4 linked regions of the Homo sapiens genome follow. The protein of the gene in region 3 purifies or fractionates together with the protein of the main gene of each other region. This does not show direct contact. Each region holds a gene or a part of one and is shown on either strand. Other genes may lie near its edges.

Region 1 (5,877 bases), on a different chromosome or scaffold from region 3:
CGCAGCGACTCGGCGGCGGAAAAGAGCACTGGCAGCATCCTGGACGACATCGGCAGCATGTTCGACGACCTGGCCGACCAGCTGGATGCCATGCTGGAGTGAACGCCGCCTGGCCGGGCCCTCCCGCGCCGCCCGGGCCCTCCCCGCACACTGACCTATACCTCAGGATGGGCGCGTCTGGGCGCGGCGCGAGCGGCCGGGCAGGGCCCTGCAGAAGCACAACTCCGGCCCCTGGACCCGGGCCGGGGCGCCCACCGGGGACCGCCTGGCCGGGGGCTCCAAGGGCTCTAGGCAGACCCTGCGCCCGCGGGTCCTCCCCACCTGCTGCTCCCCGTGCAATACCTGCTGGGCCTCCTGCCCGCGCGGGAGGGGAGGGCGCCCCGGGACCAGGGATGGGGCAGCGCACAGGCCCGGGCCCAGCACAGAACTGCCCATCGGGACGCCCGGCCAGCCGCTCGGGCGCAGCACAAGGGACAGGGGACCAAGGTCAGGGCCCCCCTGCCCCACCGCACCCCCAGAATATAAGCTATCAAGAGTATTAATTTATTGGGAATGAGCTGAGGCGGATTTCCCCAGAGAAACAAAAAGGTATAACTTTAACAAATATATATTTAAAGAAAGAAATATTATTGATTCTATAGAAAACCATTTACCAACTGAAAGGACACGAAGTCTAGCTCCGGACAAAAGCTGTTAGAGGCCCAGGCTGTCTGCCTGCGGTCCTTCCTCCGGCCAGAGTGGAGGCCCCAGGCTGCTAGCACAGGTGGAAGGCTGGGGCCCGGGGGCGGGTGCTCTGCCGGGGGCTCCTCCGTGCTTCTCTCCTAAGTTCTCTGCGCCCCAAGAACTCGAGGTTGTGCCTTGCTCTCGGCGGCCGTGTCCTCCTCCTGGCGTGGCTGCGTCCCAGGGCGCGGGTGGGTTTGGTGAATGTGGGTGTGTCAGCGTGGCAGCCACGTGGAAGCAGGGCATGTAGCAGGCCAGGCCACGGGCTTGCAGCTCCTCTGAGGGTGTGCCTGGCCCCCTCTCCAGGGGCTGTGCAGGCAGCCCATCCACCCCAGTGGAGTTCCCACGGACGCTTCTGCTCATGGTCCAAGGCTGTGTTGTGTGGTCATTCTCGCCCTCCCTTTTCCTCTCTCCTCCTGCCCCCTCCAAGAAGTACTGACTGGTCTCCTCTATCGTGTTTGCTGATCCACAGTGTTGGGCACAACTTTGACGTTTCTTAAAAAAAAAATTTAAAAAATGCCGAAAACCAGCGATTGTGGTGTGGGGCGGGTGGAGGCGGCTGGCGGAGGTGGCGTCCCGGCGTGCAGGGCCCCTTCCTGCTGTCTCACCCCGTGTTTCCCTGCGAGTGGACGTGCCCAGCTGTCCCCCCAGGCCTCTCCTCAGAGGGCGGCACAGGCTGGGCTCCAGCAGGTGGGCAGGGGAGGTCTGGGCAAGGCGCTGCCGTCGGCTGTCAATAAACAGCAGGAAACAGAGGTGCCTGGCTCACTTTTTGGGGGCACATGTGTTGGGGGAGATGGGACTGGAGGCCAGCAGCTTGGGTGTGACGAGTTGCCTCCTAGCAGGGAGGGGAGGCCCCGGAGTGGGCCGAAGTCCTGGGGTCCACCAAAGGAAACTGCCCCATGCCCCCCCACTCACAGCAGCCAGTGCCTGTGCACACCAACCTCAAGGCCACACACAGCCCCCTTGTCCCGAGGAGCTGTCCCCACTCACAGCCACAGTCTGTGGAGCATTTATTTCAACCAGGAGGTAACCAAATCTACATACAGTCTAAAAACGGTAGAAAAGGTGAGTAAAAAGGCCCTCGCTCCATCTAGGGTGGGGATGGAGGGTGGGGATGGAGGGTGGGCCGGGGCAAGCGTCGTACCTGGCACCCAGAGAGGGGCTGGGCAGCAAGGACAGTGCCGAGTAGAGGGAGGCTCGCCGAGCATGGGACGGGGAGGGCACTGCCCGGCTGCCAGAGCCTGTCCACCTATGCCCACGGGGCAGGCAGAAACCCCGAGACCACCCCATGTGGCCAGCCTGGCTCAGAAAGGTCCAGGGCTGGTTCAGGGGAAACCACAGCCTGGCCTGGATCCTGTTAGCAAGTCCAAACCTGCAGAGAAAGGGCTGCTTCACCAGGATGTCCTGCGGCCGGCTGCCCTGCCCCAGCCACACCTGCCACACGTACCTGCCCTCCACCACTTTGTGCTGGGGCTGCCAGCTCCTCGTCCCCACCCCCGCTCCATCCTGTGCAGCCCCTTTGAATGGCCTGAGCCACGGGCACTGACCTTCACAGTGCTATCCACAGCCCCTGAGAAGAGTCGGCCCCGGGACACAGCCAGCGCGGTGACACTGCCCTGGTGACGCAGCAGGGTCTGCGTGCAGATCATGTTGTCCATACTCCAGACCTGGGGGCACATGGGACGTGAGGGCCCGCCGGAGCTCAGCTGCCAGCCCTCTGAGCCTCCTGCCACCGCTGGGCCAGCACGCACCCTGAGGGACCGGTCGTAGGATGCACTGAAGACTTTGGTCTGGTCTGGCGTCGAGATGACCGCCAGGGCATACACGGTGCCCACGTGGCCCGTGAGGGTCCGCACCTGCTCCTTGGACTCAATGTCCCACACCTGGGAGGGGTGGGCACAGGCAGGTCAAAGACACTGAGCAAGGCGGGGGAGACGGGGCCACAGTCTGGCCTTGCACCCAGATGCCCAGGCCTTACGTGGATGAGGTTCTCGTAGGTGCCACAGACAATGTGGTGATTTGTCACAGCAATGGAGTAGACGCTGCCACCAGACGTCTGCAGGACGTGGATGCAGTCAAGGGTTCGGATGTCCCAGATCTATGAGTAATCGTGGGCCAGTTGGTCCCAGGCCAGGTGCTTCACCCCCAGGGCCCCCGCACCCCCAGGGCTTCAGCACTGCTGGGCAGCCCACCCACCCAGCCAGGGGATGTGCGAAGGTAGGAACAGGGCAGATGGAGCCCCAGGTGCTGGCCTGGGAAGTGCTGGTAGGAGGCAAGGCCCTGTGGCCACCAGGTGTGCCCAAGCGCACCTTGATTGTCTGGTAGGAGCCGCTGTACAGGTAGCTCTGGGCAGCCACCAGGGCCCGCACCCAGTGGTTGAGGCCTGTGAGCTCCTTCTTCAACTTCAGCTCAGTGCCCACGATGTCCCAGACCTGCAGGGATTGCTGCAACTGTGGGCTGGGCGGGCAAGGGACGCCTCAGTGACACACACGTAGGCACAGCCTCCACCCGTACCTTGATGGCCTTCAGGGAGCCGCTGAAGAGCACGTTGTGTGAGGAGACCAGCGTGCACACCGGGTTGTCATGGGCCCGGATGGTGTTCACCTTCTGCAGGTTCTGGATGTCCCACACCTGATTGGGGAAGGACCGGCAGCCTCAGGGCACCAAGCCCTGCCACCTGGAGTCTGGAGCCCAGACGGGGAGAAACACGTCCCTGGGGCACCTACAGACTGGGGCGGGCCTGGGCCGCCTCCTGCCCACCCGCCTGTAGGCCCCACTCACAATGATGGTGCAGTCTGCAGAGCCGCTGTAGAGTTTGCACCTGGGGAAGCAGAGACAATGTGTCAAGGTGGGAGAAGCTGTGTCCATGCTGACACCGCCCTGGCAGGGCCCGAGGTCCATGCCAGCCATCAGGAACCAGCAGCATGGCCCAGGGCCAAGGCCACTGCTGTGTCCTTAAGCGTCAGCCTATTTTCCAGTCTCCACATGGGAACCTTGGAAGGGGCGGGCCAGCCCCTGATGCCTGCCTGGAAAGCATTTGACAGCGAGCTGGGAGGTAATTACCCACCCGTCAGCCCTGAGTCAGTCCCAGGGCCGGCTGCTGGCAGTCAAGCTGCCGCCTCCTGAAAGCGAGCATCTCTCACGCACACGCTTACTTGCTCGCTCCCACAAAGCCTCACGATAGGAGACAGGAGGCAGGCGGGCCACCTGGAGGCAAGAAAGTGGCCAAGGTAGTTGCTCCGTAGTCTCTATGCCCTGGGCTTTGGCTGCAGGCAGGGGAGAGCTGAGCTCCTGCCTTCACCCCCTAAGGTCCCCCCTATCTTCTGGTTGCGCAAGGTGCACCTGGGCCAGGACAAGGTTCTGCTGGGAGGCTGGCTGCGCCAGGTATTGGGAACACACAACTTTGGAGATGGTGTAGGCCACACAAGGGCCCACACACTGCTACCCAGGAAACAGTGCTGCTCCGGGTGGAGGGTGCCCTATAGGTGGGGCACACACATAGCTACACAGGCTCGAGCTCATGGCTCACGGCCCACGGGGTGGCAGCGCCACGTCTCCTGTCCTGGGAATCACTGATCACACATGTGCCTGGACTCACCCCTGGATGCAGAGAGCCAGCACGATGCCATCATGGCCCTCCAGTGTCTTCTGACACTTGTAGGTGGTACATGTGTCCCACACCTGCAGAGACCAGGGCCACAGTGGGTCCCAGCAAGGTCAGCCCAGTGTCAAGGGGCAGCATGACAGGAATGAGTGAGGGAGCCCCGCCCATGGGAGAGGGCCCTGCCCAGAAGGTCCCACCCATAGGCAGGCTGGCAGTGCCAGGCATGTGGCAGTGCCCAGCCCAGCCAGGCTGCAGAGACTGAGGTAGGACCCTGCCCACCTTGATGGTCTTGTCAGAGGAGCCACTGAAGAGCAGGTCACCCATGGAGTAGACGCAGAGACACCACACAGGGCCCTGGTGGCCCACAAAGGTCCCTTTGCACTTGAAGATCTGCTGAGGGTCGTAGGCTGCAGAGATGGGAGCAGTGGGTGAAGGCCCAGTTGGGGCCCGGGGGGGAGGGTGGGCGGGAGCCACGGCGGGTCCATACTCACAGCCTAGGATGCCCATGTTCAGCCGCGCGTTGATGTGGGACAGCTCGTCCTGCAGGGCCAAGGGCAGGGCAGAGGGCAGGTGGGCAGGGCTGCTGTGGGGCCAGTGCAGCCTCTCTGCCCCTGCTGCCCTGGGCCAGGGGTGGGCAGGGGTGACAGCAGCCCCTGCCACACACAAGACCCCTGATCTTGACTAGTGTAGGCAAGGCCAGGGGAGGCCTCCCTGCCGGGGCCGCCGGCCTCCCCGGGTCTCACAACCCAGCCCCTCCAGCCCCGCCCGCTCACATTTAACATGGATGCGTCCCGCCGGAACTCCATGAGGTCCTCGCTGAGCTTGCTCTGGTTTTCGTCCAGGACGTCTGAGTAGCAGGAGGAGAGGGGGTGTCACTGGTGCCCGGAGCAGTGGCCAGGCCCCTGCCTGCCCCGGTGCCCACCCTCACCAAACTTGAGCTCCAGGCTCTTCTCTAGCTGGTCGATCTTCTCCGAGAGCTTTCCCAGCATGGAGCGCAGGAAGGCGATCTCCTGGTCCTTCTGGGCCAGAGCCACGTGCATCTCGTGGAAGCGGTCATCCGTCTGCTGCAGAAACTCCTTCAGGCCCTCGAAGCGGCAAGTCTCCAGGTGGGTCTCGTAAGTGTCCTGGTTCCCGATGAACGTGCACCTGCGGGGACAGGACAGCTGCCTGCCTGGCGGGTCCCTGCCGGTGCCTCCCCATCCCCAAGAATCCCCCTCAAATGCTCCAGCCCTGTGGCCGCTGCACCCCAGGTCCAGCTGCCCCCACCCACACCTGCCGTCCTGCCCCTCCTCCCCATCCAGCTACCCCCAGTCTGCTTCACAAGTGAGATCCCATCACGTCACCCCCGCAGAGCTCTTCAAGGGGTCCTCCCTTCCTGAGGATAAAACCCACGCTGCTTGGCAGCCTCCCTGCCCACCTCCCTGCCCTGAAGAACTGGGCTCCTGCCTCTCCTCCCACCCCCACCTCCCTCTCCAAAGCTCTCAACCCCAGCATTTGCTCAAATCCGCCCATGCTGGGCCGGCTGCGGGAGCGTCCACGCCCGCCTTCCTGGA
Region 2 (7,029 bases), on a different chromosome or scaffold from region 3:
CTTTCTAGAAACAATTTATCCTTATTTATGGACTTCTGAACGAGATATAAGGTCAAAAAATGCACAATTTATTAGGTATTGAGTGCCTTCAATGTGTAAGCTACTATGAAACAAATAGCTCATTGAGACAAAGGGGAAGATTTTACCTCCTTAAACACATTTTTTCAAAGAACCAAAAGTACACATTGATGACTACTATTTCATTAAATGCATATATTTCTTACCTATTATTCATGAGTGCATTCCCAAATGATCTTCTATTTGATAATACATAGTCTAGTTGTACATAAATGAAAGTACATTTCTCTATGTATCTTACAATTCTGTCTAAATATTCTCAAAATTAGTTCTTTTCTTTTTTAAATCAGACAGGGTCTTGCTCTGTCACCCAGGCTGGAATGCAATGGTGTGATCATAGCTCACTCCAACCACGAACTCTTGGGCTTAAGTGATCCTACCTCAGCCTCCCAAATAGCTAGGACTACAGGCATGTGCCACCACGCCTGGCTAATTTTTTATTTTTTTTTTTAGAGATAGGGTCTCACTATGTTGTCCAGGCTAGTCTTGAACTCATAGCCTCAAGTGATCCTCCCACCTTGGCCTCCCAAAGTGCTGGGATTACAGGCATAAGCAAACATCATGCCTGGCCTAGTTCAAAGTTTTAGTAAAGATTTTATCCATATCCTTTATTCCCTTGTTAATTAAACTCTAGGAGATCCACTTCTAAGGAGAATGATTTTTGCAATCATCTTGTAATAGACTAAATTTACTTATTTTTATAACTTAGTAAAAAATTATACATAACATTCCATAGTCAAGATATCACAAAGAACAATGAAAAAGCCAAAGATGAGATGAGAAGAACTTGTTGATTAATTTTCCAAGATGAAATAAAATTAGAAAGCAAGAAAAGTAAATTACAGATTTGTTCATTAGTGGTTAAAAAAAAAAAAACACCCAGAAAATTAAAAGGAAAAATTAATGATGTAACTCTGTGTTCAAGGACTCTTCTCAATTATTTACAAAAATTATCAACTAAGGACACATTTATTGAAAATCATGACAATAAGTTTAGTGAAATATCCTTTACTTCAACTCCATGTTCAGTACTAATTCAGAGGCCTATTAGCCACTGATAGTTGGCCCAAAATTATAGGCCAAGAAAAACATTAACTTTACATGCAATGCAATGCAGTGAGGATGTTTGAATAAAATCTCTTTTCAGTTTGACATCCTGAGAGTCATCTGACCAAATTATGTTAATCTCACATCAACTGTTAGTTTTAAACCATATAATCCAGAAACAAGGTTGGAGAACTAGAGTCTGGAGATGATACTTCTGTCAGTATAGGTAGATAGATTCCTATCCTAAACATCTCAAAGAAAACAATTTACTTCAACTTTATTTTGCCATAAGTAGTCAAGAAAATTTTCCTTATTTTAATGTGAGATACACAAATATCACAAATTTGTCCAATATAATATGAAAAAAAAATAAGTACCTCTCCCAAGAGCTGCTCTTCAGCAGCAGGGCTCTCCTCCCCATCACTCTGTGCTACTTGGTCAGAGTCTTTAAGAGCCTTTGGTACACAAAACAATTACAGGGGAAGGTGAAGAATGTAGTATTAAAAGGCTATTAGTGAACCAGGAAGACAAAAGACCCAACCAACAACATTCAGAGCTAGTTTAATCATAAGAAGCAACAGTGAGTAAATTTATTTGAGAAATACCATTAGAGGAAAAGCAAAGAACTATTACTGCTAACACTTTCCCATTCTTTTTTTTTTTTTTTTTTTTTTTTTTGAGACCGAGTCTCACTCTGTCGCCCAGGCTGGAGTTCAGTGGCACGATCCCGGCTCACTGCAACCTCCGCCTCCCAGTTCAAGCAATTCTCCTGCCTTAGCCGCCCAAGTAGCTGGGATTACAGGCATGTGCCACCACGCCCAGCTAATTTTTGTATTTTTAGTAGAGACAGGGTTTCACCATGTTGGTCAGGCTGGTCTTGAACTCCTGACCTCAGGTGATCCACCTGCCTCGGCCTCCCAAAGTGCTGGGATTACAGGCATGAGCCAACACACCCGGCCCACTTTCCCATTCTTTCCTACCATTTTTTTTTTCCTGGCCAAAAAAAAAAAAAAAAATTTTATCTTAAGTATTTGAGTAGTCATTAATTCTGTTTTTCCTGCTTTACAAAATTCAAATATGTATGTCAAGAGAAAGGAATGCTCTACCAGCTAAGCTCATGTTATTTTAAAATGAGAATTATTAATTTATTAAAATATCTAGAATAAGCATTTATTTTTATACCATAAAGCATAAAACACAAATTTCTTAAATGATATTTCCTTCTTCGTTATGACCTAGCCAAAGTTTTAGAAGGTAGCTATTTTTAAAGGCCTTCTTACCACATTGGCTCCATCCACTTTGTTCAAGGCCAAAGCAATCTGAAATAAAAATAACAGCTCACCTACTACATGGAATTCTATTTCAGAGCATCCAGCAAATGTTCACCTCTTGCTTCTCACTGGCGAAAATCCACAAAAGTTCTTATAGGAATAGTATGTTTAAAAAAATTAAAAAAGCTATGCAGAACTGGTTCTCCATGGTGCTAGCTTCTTTCACATGGAAGTAATTAGAAATAATCCGACAATCATTCTATTTCCTCATTTTTTGCCATCAGGCATGCAAGTAAAACTTTCATATCAATCTCTTACAAGCCTAAAAAAGTTACAGCCTCAAGAAGTTTAGACTACTAATAAAGTTAAATATAAAACTCTAAAGGAGTGAGCAAAGACATAGCCACTAAGCAGTGGGGTTGTGATGTGATCTTAGTTAGTTCTGCCTGACATCAAAAGAGCACTAATCTTCAATATGCACTTAAAGTGCACAGTATACCTCTACCACACATGCAACAACCTGCAATGCTATAGAAAACTCTAGCCATTTCCAAAGAATGATGAAAGGCTAATACAAGTTACATAGTCATTTATCAATATGTATTCAAAACTCTGGCAACCACTGTGGGTAATGATGGAGAATAAGAAAAAGAAAAAGGGAAAAAACGCTGGCAACCAAACACAAATTATTATTAAATGTTTATTGGGTGATTTGAGATAATCTGTGTAGAACTTTATTTTTTAAAAGTATGATTCATAAAGAGCATGCCATCTAACTTTCCCAAAAGTTTACCTTCTTTCCTAGATCTTCTTTTCTGTATCCTAGAAGTTCAAGGTATTTTCCACGAGAATCATCCTCAAAGTTTACCTTTAAAAAAAAAGACATATTCTTAAAACAAAGACCTACATTTAAAGGCCGAATTTTTATAAGAATGAATCAAATTCCAAAGAGAATTATTAAAAATATCTGAAGTCTACATTCTAAAGATTCACTGTTTGAAGGAATCCAAAGAATAGTGGGTTTTTTTGTTTTTTATTTGGAGACCCAGCCTCAGGAGGTCCTGAGAACATGTGCCCAGAATTATTTTTTTAAATAAGTTATTTATTAATAGTAAATATACTAGTAATTAATTATCCTGGTTGAATAAAGCTTACTTTTGAACAGTAATTTCTGTAAATACAAACTTATGTCCAAAGGTTAAACTGATACAAAACTCAAACTATGTGGAATATTCTATGTCCTAAAATTCTTTCCCAAAATTATTACAAAATATAAATTCTTTAATTTTATACTTTAACCTAACTGTATTCAAGACTGCTTTACCTTTGAAAAACCAGTACCGTATAAAGAAACAGACATTCCAGTGGAGGCAAAATGACCAACCAGGAAATTCTATTTGTTATTCTAATCTAACTCCTCTTAAAGTAAAAGGAAAAATGCCTCCAACCTCTCTCCTCTATTCCTCTTCCTCTTTTTTCATTTTCCTTAACTAGATCTACTATAGATGTTAAATATTCTGTTTTCATTATAGTAAACTCTATGTACTCATCTTCAAAATAGGTGTGCTGACTATGTCGCTCTCCTCTAAACAGACCTATTATTATTTTTTTTTACTTATTAAAAATGTATTTCATATTACACTTTTCAAAGCAGAGAAGGAAAAACTCTGGACATAAGTTAGGTTGTATGCTCTTTATAAGGCTTCTTAATTTCATGATGAATTGCTGAAATCACACTTTTTCAATTGTTTCTTTAATAGGAGGACAGATTTAGAATATAAAGGAACAGTTAAATTTGCAGATAATGAAATAATATAGCTTTAAACAGCAACTTTACCTTCAAAAAGGACCACACATTTTTCTCAAATTCAGTCTGAGAAGCATCAATTTTTTTTTGGCAATAATTGATAAATCCTTGTGACTGCACAGCCTGCTGAAGTTGGTCTGATCGGCTGAGGAACTCCTTTTCTGTTACAACCTGACTAATGAACACATGGTGCTGCTGCTGCTGCTGCTCAGCTCCCTGATGAGAAGGCATTCTGACATTCTCAAACGTAACCAGTTTGCCTCCAAACTATAAAAGAGAGAATGAACAAACTCAGTGTTAACCCAAGGATATGGCCAAAAAAAGTGCTTATAAAGTGGCCTAAACAGATAATCTGGATGAAATTAGTTGATACAACCTCTCATGCGCCACAGTCTGACACCACTTCAATTTCTGTTCTAGATGAAATGTACTTTTTTGGTTTTTTGGTTTTTTTTTTTTTGAGACAGAGTTTCGCTCTTAGTCACCCAGGCTGGAGTGCAAAGGTGGGATCTTGGCTCACTACAACCTCTGCCTCCTGGGTTCACGTGATTCTCCTGCCTCAGCCTCCTGAGTAGCTGGGATTACAGGTGCCGGCCACCATGCCTGGCTAACTTTTGTATGTTTAGTAGACAGGGTTTCACCATGTTGGCCAGGCTGGTCTTGAACTCCTAACCTCAAGTGATCCACCCAGATAGAGAAGACCAGATAGGACGATGAGAAGATTAAGCAGATCCAAAGAACAGACTTACGAGTGACATAAAACATATTCAAAGGTCCATTTTAGGAAGATTAATCTTGGAATATGTAGTAGAGATTAGAGGGGGAAAAGACAAGCAACAAATATGAAATCAAGCTATTAGAAGTTTGGCATGAAAGAATTAGGCAAGGTATCAGCAATGTAAAAGGAAGAAACAAACAAAAAGTGCTAGAGAGGATGTGGAGAAACTAGAACCCTTGTGCACCACTAGTGAGAATGTAAAATGGTAAAACGGCTATAAAATGGTATGGAGGTTCTTCAAAAACTTAAAAATAGAACCATCCTATGATCCAGCAATCCCACTTCTGGGTATATGTCCCAAAAAACTGAAAGCAGGATCCCAAAATGATAATTACAAACCCATGTTCACCACAGCATTTATTCACAATAGCCAAAAGGTGGAAGCAACCAAAATGACCATCAAATGAATGGATAAAAAAAAATGTGGTATATATATATATATATATATATATATATATATATATATATATATATACAATGCAATATTATTTGGCCTCTAAAAAGAAGTAAATTCTGTCACACTACAACACAGATAAACCTTGAGGACATTAAGCTAAGTAAAATAAGCCAGCCACAAAAAGACAAGTACTGCATGATTCCATTTATATGAGTAATTTAAAGTAGAAAACTCCTAGCAACAAAGTAGAATGTGGTTACCAGGGATTCAAGGGAAACAGGAAATGGGGAGCTGTTGTTCAAGGGCACAGAGTTTCAGTTTTGCAAGATGAGAAAGTTCTAGAGATCTGTTGCACAACAACGTGTATATAGTTAACACTACTGTAGTATATATTTAAAAATGGTTGTAGTGTATATTTTAAAATGGTTAAGATAGTAAATTTTATATTATGCATTTTTTACAATTAAAATTTTATATTATGCATTTTTTACCATTAAAAAAAGCTGGCAATTAAAAAAGAAAGCTAAAAGGATGAAGAAGAGGGAGGACACTCCCTGCAAAAAGAAAAGAAAAAAAGAAGAAAAGAAAAGAAAAAGAAGGGAGGGAGGGAGGGAAAGAGAGACAGAGGGAGGGAAAGAGAGACAGAGAGAGAGAGAAGGAAGACAAATTTAAAAGGGAGGAGGGCCGGGTGCAGTGACTCATGCCTGTAATCCCAGCACTTTGGGAGGCCGAAGCGGGTGGATCACCTGAGGTCAGGAGTTCAAGACCAGGCCAGTCAACATGGTAAAACCCCATCTCTACTAAAAATACAAAAACCAGCCAGGTGTGGTGGCACGTGCTTGTAATCCCAGCTACCCAGGAGGCTGAGGCAGGAGAATCGCTTGAACCAAGGAGGCGGAGGTTGCAGTGAGCCAAGGTTGTGCCACTGCACTCCAGCCTGTACAACAGAGTGAGACTGTCTCAAAAAAACAAACAAACAAACAAAAAAATGGAGGAGGGGAGGAATATAAAGTGTTGGCTACACAACAACAATGTAAATGTACTTAATGCCATTGAACTGTATATTTAAAAATGAACAAAATGATCAATTTTATGTATATTTTACCATGATTTTTAAAAAAGGGAAAAAAAAGAGTAGGTTCCAATTTTTCAGAGAAACCATTTTGAATGATGAAATACCCACAAGTACATCTCAAATCCCAACTTAAACCCTGATTGCTTCCATCAGAGTGACTCTATAATAACACTTTGGTATAAAAAGTCCTTTGTGCCTATGGACCATAAAAACAAAATCCACCTACTGAAAAAGAAGCACCAACAGGCCTTCGAATCCACTTGGGCGGCTTCTTCAGAGGCAGCACTATACTATGCTGAGCAGTCTGCTGTGGAATTTGTAACGGAGGAAGGGGCTGTCCTGTGCCAAAGGGATCAAGATTCCCAAAAGATGATGAAAGCTAAAAAAGATAATAATAACATAAGCATCCGACCATACACAAAGTTTCATTTTTTTCCAGTCATATCCAAAAAAATTTTTGATCACAATTGTCCAATTAACCAGCATTGTTAATCAGTGAAGTCATTTCAAAATATTACACAACACATACTTTTTTCAGGCATTATAATAGAAAACTTTAACACTTCCTATTACCTT
Region 3 (7,029 bases):
GTTCCTTCCACCTTATGCAAGTACTAATATGCATTGTCACTATAGATTAAATTTCCTTTTCTAGAATTTCATAAAATGAAATAGTATTGTCAGTACTCCTGTGTCTAGCACTAAATGTGTTTCTAAGATGAATTCAAATTTTTGTATGTATCAATATTCCTGTTTCTTGGGGAAGAGGTATTACATTGTGTTAATATATTACAATTTATCCATTCATCTGTTGATGGGCATTTGGATTGTATCCAGGTTTTGACTCTGAACAGAGCCTCTGTGAACATTCTTATAAAGAGTACTGGGTAGTATGCTTTCATTTTCATGTCCTTAAGGGAAATTATGGTTCTGTGATTTCATTTGTTGTAAGCCTTAGATATTTGTTATTTGATTTCCAAATATTTGGGTATTTTTATGCTATCATTTTGTTATCAATTTGTAGTTTAATTTTGTTATGGTCAAAGAATGTACTTTGTATGACTTTAGTCCTTTTAAATTTATCAGTGTTTGTTTTATAGGACAGAATGTAGTCCATTTTGTTGAATTTTCCATGCACATGAAAAAAAATGTGTATAATGCCATGGGTGGGTGGATTGTTGTGTAATGCCAGTCAGGTCAAGTTTCATGATAGTGTCATTCAGGTATTCCATATCAGTACTTTTTTTTCTTGTGTTATCAAGTCATTGAGGGGGCATGTTGAAGTTTCCAGTAGATTTGTCTGTGTTTCCTTTCGGCTGTATCGATGTTTCCTTTATATATTTTGAAGTTCTATTTTTGTGTTCATGCACATTTAGAATTATGTTTCCTTGGGGGACTTAACCGTTTTATTATTATGTACTGTCTCTCTTTATCCCTGTTAGTATTCCTTGTTATGAAAACTGCTAACGGTAGTGAATAGATAAAAGTGTAGTTGGATTACAATCTTAATCTGCCATTTTTCTAGATGATTGGTTATGTTTCTTCTGTTTTCTCTTTCTGTCTTTTGTGTATCAATCAAATGGTTTTTATGGTTTTATTTTTTTGATTTAAAACTTTGTTTTGAGACAGGGTCTCACTCTGTCTCTCAGGATGGAGTACGGTGGTGCCATCACAGCTCACTGCATCCTCGACCTCTGGGGCTCAAGTGAACCTCCCACCTCAGGCCATTCACTGCGCCCATAGGAGCTGGGACCATTTCTGGCTAATTTTTGTATTATTTTTTGTAGAGATAGGGTTTCACAGTGTTGCCCAGGCTGGTCCCAAACTTCCGGACTCAAGCCATCTGCCCACCTCGGCCTCCCAAAATGCTGGAATTATAGGTGTGAGCTGCTGCACCCAAGCTATTTTATTTTCATTTTTCTCTTAAAAATATTTGTAGTGGTGGCTCTGTGTTAAATTTTTTCATTTTTTTTCTCTCTGTACTTCAGTTTGGGTACTTTCAGCATATTTTCAAATTTACTGATCTTTCATTCTTACCTGATTAATTCCATCCACTTTTTAATTTTACATATTTTTTTGTCTCTAGACTTTTATCTGGGCCCTTTTTAATATATTTCTTCATCATTATGTGGATGATTTCCAGCATGCTTATAATAGCTTATATAAAGTCCTTGACTGCTAATTTCATCATCTTTGTTATTTCTGCATTCTCAGTTGACTGAATTTTCTGCTAGTTGTGTATGGTAGTTTTCTTCTTCATATCATGTCTTCATATCATTTTATTGAATGCTTAGTACTTTGAATTTTATATTTTTGAGCATCAGGTGTTGTATTCCTGTTAAGGAGTATTGGACTTTATTTTTTCAGAAGTGGTTACATTCGTCTGTGGCTTATGTTGTTAGGCAGTATGTAGGTATGATTGAGCTGCATTGCTAGGGTCTAAACTCCCCTGTATATCCACTGAATCCTCTGGATTTTCAATAGATGCTTCACTGTGGCCTCATCTCTGACGACTGTGTGAGCGTTGGATCTCTTTAGCATATCGCCCTCGGTCACTTTTTGACCAGTTTCATGGAGTTTTTCACCTGTGCATGCGTGGGTTTTTCAGAAGGTCTTCACTGATACTTGGAAAGTGCCTCTAGGCAGAAAGTTGAGGCAAACTTCTGGCTTATCTAATTCATTTTCCTTCTTGGATATTATCATTCAGTACTGCCTGTGGCCTCATGTCTTTAAAAAGTTAACCTCAGTGTGGAAAATCTGTTTTTCCAGTTTTCTAATTGTTTACAACGGGAGTGTAAGTCTGGTCTGTTTTTCCACCCTGGCTGGAAGTGGAAGTCATGGCCTACCATTTTATTTTCAAACCTTTTTTTTTTTCCTACCCAGAATTAGCCTGAAATGCCTCATCTACGATTACTAATAAGAGAGCCTGTTAATTTTGTTTGAAAAATTTAAAGGAACTAGTTTACAGTTTTTCAACCGTGTTATTAATAAAAATTAAATTTCCCTACTTTATCATAGTCTCCCTTTTTATCGTAGTCTTTTGTCTATAACAGTTAAGGGGCAGGGGGAAGCTAGATGTATTATTAAGTAATTTTTACTTTTCTCATTTTTTTAGACCTAAGGATTGTCTTCGGTCTATTATGAGAAGAGTGAACCACAAAGATCCTCACGTTGCTATGCAGGCTTTGACTGTGAGTGGTTTCATTTTAATCTGTACCACGAAATTACCTGCCACAATTGAGCCCCTTTAACTTCTGATTTTGTGCTTTTAGCTTCTAGGAGCATGTGTATCAAACTGTGGCAAAATTTTTCATTTAGAAGTATGTTCAAGAGATTTTGCTAGTGAAGTAAGCAACGTATTAAATAAGGTAAGGAGCATTATTTCCAGAAATTAATTAAGGCAGTCTTCTTTCTTCACATATTTTATTGTTTAAATCTTCACAGAGGACTATTCTGTGCTTTTTAAGAAATCCTTTCTAGGCTGTGTCTATCCAGTATATAAATAAATATTATGTTTTGTTGAAGAGACTGCGGATTCATGTAACTTTGAGTTAGTTTTTTCAAGCCATATTAGAGTGTTTTTAACCTGTTCTTTTCCATCATACTTTCATCTGATAAGAAAACAGGTATTTCTATATCTAATTAAATAATATCAGTCTATTTTACATACTGTTTTTGTAGGCACAAGGTATTTTCCTAATGGAAAACCTTTCAGAAACACTGCAAAAAGTCTATGGCACCGTTGAGTTTTTATCTTTATCAATAAGGCTGCTTCCTGGCCATCACAGGATTTTAATACTATACTGCTATTCTTACTGGCTGAACCCACAGCTGGAGTTGCCTCAAAAGTGGTGGCGGGGGAGTTTCCACAAGGGACTGCCCCAAACTGTTCCAGATAGGGCCAGATGAGAGTCCAAAAAAAGAGGCACTAAATGCCAGGGTGATCAGTCTAAAGGATTTATTAGGGGAACTTACACAGGAGGGCTGCAGTTTATAGGAGGGTTTAAGGAATTTGGCTCAGGGTTGGGGCTGGTTTCTGTGTGTTTAGCAACATACTTGATCTTTTAGTGTTTTGGGCCACAACCTGAACAACTTTATCAGTGCCTGAGAATGTTCAAGGCCCCAGTTTGGGTCCAAACCTATGGTGGAAAACATGCAGCTGGCTAGGTCACAGAGCGGGACAAGGCACTCTGTTTTTCTATTGGGACACAGAAAGAAAGCAGGGAGAACTGGGGACCCTACAACTGCCCACTCAACTGTAGAATTCTAGTCACACAGTTCAAGAAATTTTTCAATTTTCAATTAGTAATATGTGAGTTTCCCCAGTAAAAATTTGTGCATTCTAAAAGTAATTATTTTTGGCCTTTTTAGGGGGAGTACTGTAAATCAAGAAAAAGTTTTTGTATGTTAAAAGGGAAAATGCCTCATGTTTTTGGGAAAAATGAATAGTTCCAGGTTACAGTAGAAAAATAGCAGTATAGAAATATAGTAAGAATGTAAAATTCTGTACTTTTCGAACATCATGGTTAAATGATAATTCTTTCCCTTTCCTGCTTTATGCAGTTAATATTTATTTTCTACTAATTAATAAACATTGTCTTTTAATGTCCTGAATGTCCATCGAGATTACAACTGTTTATGAAGAGATTCTAATACCATGTTTTTTGTAATGTAGGTGAAAAATGTGGTATACTTACCTATGTATAATAGTGCAAGCAGCCATTTCCAAAAACGACTTCCTATAGGCAAGAGGACTTCTCTTTATTTTCTGAATGTTTTACAGTGAACATATTGGTTTTGTACTTAATAACATCCCGCCTTTTTTTTTTTTTTTTGAGACAGTGTCTCTCTTTGTCACCCAGGCTGGAGTACAGTGGCGTGATCTCAGCTGACTATAGCCTCTGCCTCCCGGGTTCAAGTGATTCTCCTGCCTCAGCCTCCTGAGTAGCTGGGAATACAGGCATGCGCCACCACGCCTGGCTGGTTTTTGTAGTGTTAGCAGAGATGGGGTTTCACCATGGGGATGGTCAGGCCAGTCTCGAACTCCTGACCTTGTGATTGCCCACCTCGGCCTTCCAAAGTGCTGGGATTACAGGCATGAGCCACCGCGCCCAGCCAACATCCTGCCCTTTTAAAAAATTTCCTTTTATTAAACAAATTAAGTTCATGTATAGTCTCAATAAAGCGTTTGCAAATCCATTATATGCTCCTTGACCAAAATACAGATTACATGTGCACTTAGAAAGAATTTTTTTTCTTCTAATAGAGTAATCTAAAAGTCTAACCTTCTCCATTTTTAAAAGCTTTAGCCAATTATTTAGTAAGCATTGGTTTGAAATACATTCATGACATTTCATAGAGGAGTTATTTCTTCTCTGGTATCTGTGAAGGTTTCTTTATATCTATTACATCAAATAGTAAGACTTCAAATTATTGCCGCTATGAAGATACATCAGTATTTTAATGAACTGGCCAGGTTTTTTCCCTTAATAAGCAATGAGTAAAATAATTTATTTTGAAAACTCACTACATTTATCTCTTTCTTTAATACGGAAGAATAATGCCCTGCACACCTGCCTTAGACTAACTTGAATCTTTGTTATACATCAACCATAAAGAGTTATGTTATTTTGGGCTGGGCACGGTGGCTCATGCCTGTAATCGCAGCACTTTGGGAGGCTGAGGCGGGCGAATCAGTTGGGGTCAGGAGTTCAAGACCAGCCTGGCCAACATGGTAAAACCCCGCGTCTGCTAAAAGTACAAAAATTAGCTGGGCATGGTGGTGCGCGCCTGTAATCCTACTCGGGAGGTTGACACAAGAGAATCGCTTGAACCGCATCCCCCACCCCCCTCTGGGAGGCGGAGGTTGCAGTGTGCTGAGATCGAGCCACTGCAGTCCGGCTTCTGCCACAGGGTGAGACTCTGTCTCAAAAAACAAACCAAAAAAAAAGAAAAGAAAAGAAAGGAAAAAAAGTTATGTTATTTTGAAGAAATTAAATTTTCAAAATGATTAACATGCAGTGTACCTCAAACTAGGCCCCAGATAATTAAGCATCATGGAAAAAATGCATAGTCATGAACATTAAGAAGTCAGGAATTTGGAATAAAGGAACTGTATCATTTATTCTCTCCTTCCCACTTTTTTATTGCTTTGCAAAAAGCAGACACTTTTCCTTGTCTTACTGATGTACAAACCTTGCTTCGTTGCAAAATATTCTGAAAAGTCCTTTCAGATCTCCAAAATCTTATTACCTATTTAATGCTTTAATTTGAAGTGAGATATATATGATGGGTTTTTTCATAGTGTGAACATTAGTTTTATTTCGAATAACTATATTTTCTTGTCTATAGCTATGCATAACTTGTGATTCAAAAAACATCACTTAATAACTTTACTATTTAAAATGTCTGTATTAAATCATTGGCTAGGAAATTGGTGCTCTTTTATTTCTTTTTCTATTTTACAGGGTCATCCTAAAGTATGTGAAAAATTAAAGGCTCTTATGGTTGAATGGACAGATGAATTTAAGAATGATCCACAGCTTAGTCTAATATCAGCAATGATTAAGAACCTTAAGGAACAAGGAGTTACGTTCCCAGCTATTGGCTCTCAGGTATTTTGGGAATGAAGTTGTGTGTGTGCTACAGTTTGTTTCTCTTAAATAGCTATATTTATTTGAATTTTTTTCTTCATTCCCAGGTAATTTTTACTACTTCAGAGGAATTTTCGTTAGCTAATTGTGTTAGTAACTAGTTGTATTGCTAGTTAGTAATACTAGTTTTCTGGCATTCAGAGGTGCCAGAAAAGTATTATAATGGAATATTAATGTGCTCTAACCTCTCTACTTCTTTATAAACGAATTGGTTTAACATTTTGCAGTTTTTGAAATTTTTTGGTATAGTTTTTGTTTGTTTGTTTTTGAGACGGAGTCTTTGTTTGTCGCCCTGGGTAGAGTGCAGTAGCGTGATCTCGGCTCACTGCCACCTCTGCCTCCTGGGTTCAGGTGATTCTCCTGCCGCAGCCTCCTGAGTAGCTGGGACTACATGCACGTGCAGCCAGACCTGGAAATTTTTTTTTTTTTTAAATAGAGGTGGGTTTCACCATGTTGGCCAGGCTGGTTTCGAACTCCTGACCTCAGGTGTTCTGCCCGCCTCGGCCTCCCAAAGTGCTAGGATTACAGGTGTGAGCCACCAGGCCCAGCCAGTACAGTTTTAATAATATACACAAAATAGCTTTATTAATTAGGTAACACTGTCTTTTTAAATGCTCTTAATGCTATAATTTTCTACAAAGAATGATAGCTCAGAAATCAGGATATCCTTAAAAGTTAGGGATGACTTGAGAGATTCTTTTGTGGAGGAAATTTATGAATTCCTCTATTAACAATGAGAGGACTTTAGAAGGGGTAAATGGGAAGAGAAGCACCTGAAGCATTTTCTCCTTAGTAAGAGCCGACCAGTACATAAGTCTTCCTTTCCCCAGTGGATATGGCTAAATAGCTTAACTTTGCTCTCCTGTCCACCCTTGTGCCAAAAAAATTCAGTCTCTAATTTATGTCATGTAGAAAAAAATCAAGAAATGTCTTTTTTATTCCTATTTCTATTTTGGGTAACCTTCCT
Region 4 (7,009 bases), on a different chromosome or scaffold from region 3:
TGCTTCTTAAGGAATATGGGGAACCCCAAGGAAAAAAAGCACAATGAACATAATCTCAATAGTCTGACTCACTGCACAAGATAAAGGACATAAAAAATGCTAAAGCATAAAGTATTTGCCAATGACAACAGAATAAACTAACATTCACATTTCTTAATGGTAGGCAGCTGATGCTGTCTTAGGAAATAGGCTGAGCTTAATCTCTCAAACAGCTTAAATTGCTTTTGTAGTTGAGCCAATCAACTCAAACTAAAATTATCTGAGTAACGAGGTTGACACCATGCAATTTATTTATTTATATATTTTTTTGAGACAGAGTTTCACTCTTGTTGCCCAGGCTGGAGTGCAGTGGCACAATCTCGACTCAACGCAACCTCCGCCTCCCAGGTTCAAGCGATTCTCCTGCCTCAGCCTCCCAAGTAGCTGGGACTACAGGCACCTGCCACCAGCCCTGGCTAATTTTTTGTATTTTTAGTAGAAAGAGGTTTCACTATGTTGGCCAGGCTGCTGGTCTCGAACTCCTGACCTCGTGATCCACCCGCCTCGGCCTCCCAAAGTGCTGGGATTACAGCGTGAGCCACCGCCCCAGGCCATGACACCAGGTAATTTAGTAGTAGCACTCCAGGTTTCAATCACATAAATTACTTCCAGTTTACATTTATTTTATTGCTTCAAAAAAGGTAAGCATTCTTATAGATGTTCCCACAATCCACAATGGACCCTTGGGGACAACTAGAAGACTCACTACAAGTACCAGGCACTTAAATACATTACTAAACCTTATAGCAAACCTACAAGGTAGTTTTTTGCCCTATTTTACAGGGAAAACTCAGGAAGATTTGAGGTGACACTGGAAAATTGCTTTATTGGGTAGAATATGTTTCCATCTGATCATAATGATCTTTCTGATATTTCACAATTTAGAGGAGAAGTGATAAGAGCCATTTTTCTGCAAATCCACTCCTGAGCCACAGTGTCAGGTGAGAACACTGGTTACCTCATCTATTGCTGACTTCAGGTTACACCCACTATCATTCCCAAGCACCACCTGAGGGTATACTCTGTGGAGGACCTTACACAGCCTTGTCCTTAATGGGCTGGCAAGCCTAGCTGGGAAAGAAAAGCTTTTCTCCAAACCTAGCTTGTCCGAGATTAACTTATGATGGAGAAGACTTCTTTGGTGACCTGAAAACTAAGAATAATCTCTGCAGCCAACACAGCAGTTTGATCTTTTTCCTGTTTTCCTCTGTTTAAGTTATTGTAGTAGACCATTAACCCACCCAGGTAAACATCACTGTTCCTCAATCTTTGAAGGGTATTACTTTCAAATTACATAATTTCATGGGGGAGGAGAGGGAATGCAAGGCTTCCTACAACAAGACTGACTTTCTTGACACCAGTGCTAAAGAAGGGGATGATCATTTTCACCATGTCAACATTATAGGAAGCAAGAGGAAAAGAAGGGGGGCAGGGGTCTATAGCTTCATAGACCTTTCCTAAGAGACAAAAGGGGCTTTGGAGGTGAGAATGTGGCTGAATTCAGGAAAAGCAAATCCACGCTAGGAATGTGCTGCAATATCCTAGTAAGGGGACTTTTCATAGGATAAAGCCCCACAGATTATGTAATCCTACACATAATGAGTGGACAGGGAACAGGAACATAAACCCTCTGGGAAAATCATGACTTTTTTAAAATCAGCTTTCTCAGGTTGAAATGATTTTTTTTCTCTTTCTCTAGTTGTCATTTCTGAAAGAAAGAGTTTATAAAAATATTCTGAGATTAAAGCCCAAGGTTGTGGGGAGGGAGGAGGCTTGGTTTTGGAGAAGGTTAGAGTTTAGATAGAGCAGGCTGCTCAGAAATACTGTCCAATCAGAGGGCTCAGCCTTGGCTGCAGACTGTAGTTTAGATTTTAGATTCTCTGACACTAAAAATAATGCCTCTTACCATGGAATAAACCAGAGACAGTTATATTTTCCTGTGTATGGAAGGAATGAACACACGCCCATGATACAGTGGAGAGAAATGTTACCCTCCCAGGTTAAGGCAGGTAACCTCGCTCAGGAAAAGGTTATCTGACAGCCAAGGACATAAAATAAATGCTGCAGGGCAAGCAGAAAACATGCATCATGCAAACCAGGGCTGCCGCCTCCTCACCTCCTTTCAGCCAGCCCAGCCTCCCAGTCCTCTTTCTTGGGCTGAGCTGAGATCTGCCTCGGGTGAAACGAGAGATCCCTATGGTTCCTCAAGTGCTTGGATGGAGAGCCCTGCCTGCTGTCTCCGGGAACGGAGCGCTCCACAGCCTGGGGACATTGCGAGACTGCCCTTGCCTGCTTCTGCTTCTAAGGTGGCTGCATTCCCAGGAACCAGAGCCTGCTTTTCCCGAGCTCTCCTAAAAATATTTATCCTCTGCCGGTCCCTATGGGAGAACGACAGTGTGAAGAAGGGTGGTTTATAAACTGCTTAAGGATTTGCCTTTTGACGTTGCAAACCAAGGAAGAGGAAGATATTTAGGACAGACGAAGGTTTAAACAGTTGTCAAATTCTATTCAAGCACTTCTTCCCCGTCACAAACGCAGACGGGGAAATGCAGATCTAGCCCGCTGCTAGCAAGGAGGCGAATGCGATACCCTGAAAATTCCCGACTGGACCACCTCAAAAAGCGACAGCCTCAATGCATTAGGAAAAACCTGCGTTTTCGTGGAACCCGGCGGAGGAATTTTGTATCCCCTTCAAATATTGCGTAAGAGGAGGAAGAGAGAAGCAGCGCTGGGCTGCACCTCACCACTTGCTGTGCACCCCGGAAAGTGGCGTCCAGCAGCATCAGCTTCCAGGGGTCGGACACGGAGCCAGGCAGCGGGATGTAGACGTAATAGGCGGCCAGCGCCACCAGGGCGGTGAGCAGGACACAGGACGACCTCATCTTGCCCTGGCTCGGCTCGCCAGCGGGCTGGCAAAGAGGAAAGGGCGATACCACCCGGAGACCTCCGGCAACTTTCTGCCCGCGGCAGCTGCTCATTCACGCGTTTCTTATAAGCCCAGGAGCCAATCAGAGGCTGCGTCGGGAGGAAGTTGGAGCGCGGACATGCCCCCTCTACGGTGTCCTTGCAAAGTGTGGCAGTCACTACAGGTTTGAGGAAGGCTCTGTCGCTGCTCTGGCCGTAGGCACAGCGGACTCTGGAGGACACTGGTTTGTACTGCATGCGTGTGAGGATGGCTTTCCTCCTGGAAGGTCTCAAACGGAAAATAGTTTCAGTGTGACGAGTCTCTGGACAAAGCAAGTGGGTCATTCTGACTCAGAGTACTGAGAAAGGATATAAAAATTCTGTTTTCTGGAGCCAGACTTGGAGTGGTTTGTAAGTTCTAGCTGATATATGGCAAAAGAAGATATTAAATTCTTCTGGCTCAAGCAATGAAAGGCCAGTAGTACATCTAGCACCCAAGTCTTGGTTTCTAAATCCTATGCTCCAATAAGAGGAACCACGGCTTTTTGACACAACCTCTGGAGAAAAGGCTGATACCAGGGCTGGGGCTGTAAAGTACAAGATGAACCTGTTGTGCCAGAGATGCGGAAGTGCTCAAAAAATGATAGGAACTGGTCAAAGGTCCACAGCTGCCAGCTTGAAGGGTCTCCCAGTGGCTGAAGCTGGGATAATTTTACCATCAATATAAATCATCATAATGGATAACCCATTGATTAAAATAAAACTCAACAATCTATATTAATATAAATAAATGAGGAAAGAAGAAAGGCTTTTCTTAAAATAGAATGCCAGCTAGTATCCATAGAAAATCATAAATGAATGCTAAAACTAGAGGGTAAAAATTTGACACAGAATTTTGGTCCTTCATCAGAAGATCTCTCCACAAATTACTACAAAGGGAAAAAATAATAACTTTTTATTGGAGAAACGTGTGGATATCACCTGAAAAATTCTTTCAGTGAGTCAATGGTAGCAGAAATACACTTAAACCCAGATTTCTTGTTAATGATTGGGGGTGAGGAGGGGTGGGTGAGTACTGAATGGGAGAGAGAAAACTTCACTAGCAAAATTTCAACCAGAAATCCAGAAGGAAAACAGTTAGAAGACCTGTTTCAAGAAAGTGGTAGGATGACAACTCCAAACTTATTGATGAAGGTCTTAAAACACCTAGTATATATAATTATGCATCTTAAGATGGTAATTTTAATTTAATCAAATTAATAGAAGTGAAATAACCATAAATTTGGTTCTGATAATGAGATTTTTAGGAAACAGTTGGCTTCTTCTTCAACATTGAAGGAAAACTGATAAGAAGGGCACACTTTCATGGTATTTCAAGCAAGTTCTCTCTCTCTTTTTTTTTTGTTTTGTTTGTTTTTGGTGTTTGTTTTTTGTTTTTTTTGAGACGGAGTCTTGCTCTTTTCGCCCAGGCTAGAGTGCAATGGCACGATCTCAGCTCACTGCAACCTCCACCTCCTGGGTTCAAGCAATTCTCTTGCCTCAGCCTCCTCAGTAGGTGGGATTACAGGTGCCCACCACCACACCTGGCTGATTTTTGTATTTTTAGTAGAGATGGGGTTTCACCATGCTGGCCAGGCTGGTCTCAAACTCCTGACCTTGTGATCTGCCCACCTCAGTCTCCCAAAGTGCTGGGATTACAGGCATGATCCACGGCACCTGGCCTCTCTCTCTCTCTCTCTCTCTCTCTCTCTCTCTCTCTCTCTCTCTCTCTGTCTTTTAAGTTACTGGTTAAACTCATAACTCTAAACAGATAGGAATGTTTATGTTTATGTTTGTGTGTGAGTATATGTGTAGAAAATTAGAAGCTATTCTTTTTTTTTTTGAGATAGAGCATCGCTCTTGTCACCCAGGCTGGAGTGCAATGGTGCAATCTTGGCTCACTGCAACCTCTGCCTCCCGGGTTCAAGCCATTCTGCCTCAGCCTCCCGAGTAGCTGGGATTTCAGATGCCTGCCACTAAGCCCAGCTAATTTTGTATTTTTAGTAGAGACAGGGTTTCACCGTGTTGGCCAGGCTGGTCTTGAACTCCTGACTTCAGGTGATCCACCTGCCTCAGCCTCCAAAAGTGCTGGGATTACAGGTGTGAACTACCACGCCCAGCCAGAAGCTAATCTTTATGGGTGATTAGGAATAATCCTGGAGATATAAACCAAGCTGACTACTGGATTTAGTTACATTACTTGCTTTCAGGAAATCTGCAAAATAAATCCAAGTTTTACCTTGTCGACAATACTTTTCTCTTAGATTTTGACTATATGTTCATAAAAACATAGATCTTAGAGCTAATGACAAAACCAAACCGAACCAAAAACAAACAAGCAAACAAATCCAAAAATCCCCACACCTAACTCAGCCTTCCCTCTTCCACCAGCAGTTAACACACTCGGTGTTATAGATGAGCCTCTTGAGGATTAGCGCAGCCAAATGGCTTACTCATATTCCTCTAGTTTGTAAGTGATAGTAGCAATATTTATTTCTGCCTCTCAGTGAAGTGTGGCTTCCCTTAAGCAGTACACTAAGAGATAGAAACTAAGAAAGAACAAAGAAACTGTAGTAATTCTCAGATCAGAAATCTGAGAGCCTCTGTAGATCTGAGAGTTTTTTAAAATGAGACTAATTTGAGATAAGTATAAACACCTTCATCACTTGTTTTCAATACTTCATTCATTCAACAAACATACCTGGCCTACACTGGGAAATAAAGAAGTTGTGGCAGGCAGGCTGTAAGGTTTCGACTCTTTGATTTTATATGCTTGGAGGGTGGTGGGGAGGGGTTCAGGGGAGGATGTAAGCATGATACAGAAGGAAGAGCCAAACAATAAACAAACAAAAATTAATAAGCAACATGCATTAATTTGCCTTGCTATGAGGTAATTCTGTGGTAAGCACTTTGAATATATTAACTAATTTAGCTTCATAACGATTCTACGAAATAGGTACCATTGTTACTCTAAAAACAGGCACTGAAAGATGAAGTGCTTTGCCCAAGCCATCCAGCTGGTATGTGAGCCCAGAGTCTGAGCCTAGTGCTCATGTGCTTTACCACTCAGCTCTACTGCTAAGTGGTTAAAAATGAAAATGGCCGGGCGTGGTGGCTCACGCCTGTAATCCCAGCACTTTGGGAGGCCAAGGTGGGTGGATCACCTGAGGTTGGGAGTTGGAGACCAGCCTGGCCAACATGGGGAAACCCCGTCTCTATGAAAAATACAAAAATTAGCTGGGTGTGGTGGCACGTGCCTGTAATCCCAGCTACTCGGGAGGCTGAGGCAGGAGAATTGCTTGAACCCGGGAGGTGGAGGTTGCAGTGAGCCGAGATTCCACCATTGCACTCTAGCCTGGGCAACAAGAGTAAAACTCCGTCTCAGAAAAAAAAAAAGAGAGAGAGAGAAAACAGAACAGGGTGTCTGGGAGCTGCTTTAAATTGGGTGGGAAAGGGGACCTCTTTAAGGAGATGCCATTTGAGCTGACATCTGCATGACAGGAGAAGACTGCCATGCAGGGTTGTGGAGGTGGAGGGAACAGGTGCAGAGGCTCTAAGATGCTAACCCGGTCAATGAACACTAACAGCTAGTGAGGCAGAAGTACTGTGGGAAAGGTGGTGGAACAGGCTCAGCCACAGAGGTAGTGTGGGTGCAGAAGAGCAGATCATTTAGGACCATGTAGGCCATGTTAAGGAGTTTGAATATTCTGGTACAATGGGAAGCAATTGGAGGTTTTGTAACAGGAAAGTGACATGATCTGATCTATTCATATATTTAAAAAGGAGCACTACAGCTGCCATGTGGAGAAGACCTGTCAGGTGGCTTTTGCAGTAGTCCAGATGAGATATGATGGTGGCCCGGAGCTGCAGTTTAGTTTAGCAATGGAATCAAGGGGACAGATTTTGGGTATATTTTAGAGATAGGGGAGATAAGACATACTCATAAATTATGAACGATGATAACAAGAGTCAAAATACTCTGTTTCTAAGGCAATAAGGTGTAGTTTGAGTGCAGAAATTGACTTTT

Evidence for each region.
Region 1: the proteins of STAM (region 3) and TRAF7 purify together in Homo sapiens (affinity purification with mass spectrometry; 2 studies listed by BioGRID and IntAct, with this or other methods). This does not show direct contact.
Region 2: the proteins of STAM (region 3) and SEC31A purify together in Homo sapiens (affinity purification with western blotting; 2 studies listed by BioGRID, with this or other methods). This does not show direct contact.
Region 4: the proteins of STAM (region 3) and NCEH1 purify together in Homo sapiens (affinity purification with mass spectrometry; 2 studies listed by BioGRID and IntAct, with this or other methods). This does not show direct contact.

Annotation. Positions count from the first base shown.
Region 1 is NC_000016.10:2,172,775-2,178,651, reverse strand, and holds the end of TRAF7 (E3 ubiquitin-protein ligase TRAF7), read right to left. Parts: intron 5,471-5,877; coding exon 5,253-5,470; intron 5,172-5,252; coding exon 5,098-5,171; intron 4,865-5,097; coding exon 4,816-4,864; intron 4,732-4,815; coding exon 4,604-4,731; intron 4,402-4,603; coding exon 4,319-4,401; intron 3,542-4,318; coding exon 3,502-3,541; intron 3,352-3,501; coding exon 3,235-3,351; intron 3,153-3,234; coding exon 3,030-3,152; intron 2,819-3,029; coding exon 2,699-2,818; intron 2,604-2,698; coding exon 2,472-2,603; intron 2,388-2,471; coding exon 2,268-2,387; intron 2,093-2,267; coding exon 2,078-2,092; 3' UTR 523-2,077; downstream 1-522. Other genes in the region: CASKIN1 (caskin-1), read left to right, coding at 6-102. UniProt on the Homo sapiens protein: E3 ubiquitin and SUMO-protein ligase that plays a role in different biological processes such as innate immunity, inflammation or apoptosis. Potentiates MAP3K3-mediated activation of JUN/AP1 and DDIT3 transcriptional regulators.
Region 2 is NC_000004.12:82,860,129-82,867,157, forward strand, and holds part of SEC31A (protein transport protein Sec31A), read right to left. Parts: coding exon 7,027-7,029; intron 6,833-7,026; coding exon 6,680-6,832; intron 4,471-6,679; coding exon 4,234-4,470; intron 3,265-4,233; coding exon 3,190-3,264; intron 2,445-3,189; coding exon 2,406-2,444; intron 1,581-2,405; coding exon 1,503-1,580; intron 1-1,502. UniProt on the Homo sapiens protein: Component of the coat protein complex II (COPII) which promotes the formation of transport vesicles from the endoplasmic reticulum (ER).
Region 3 is NC_000010.11:17,682,151-17,689,179, forward strand, and holds part of STAM (signal transducing adapter molecule 1), read left to right. Parts: intron 1-2,524; coding exon 2,525-2,600; intron 2,601-2,681; coding exon 2,682-2,777; intron 2,778-5,876; coding exon 5,877-6,023; intron 6,024-7,029. UniProt on the Homo sapiens protein: Involved in intracellular signal transduction mediated by cytokines and growth factors. Upon IL-2 and GM-CSL stimulation, it plays a role in signaling leading to DNA synthesis and MYC induction. May also play a role in T-cell development.
Region 4 is NC_000003.12:172,708,064-172,715,072, forward strand, and holds the start of NCEH1 (neutral cholesterol ester hydrolase 1), read right to left. Parts: upstream 3,005-7,009; 5' UTR 2,922-3,004; coding exon 2,784-2,921; intron 1-2,783.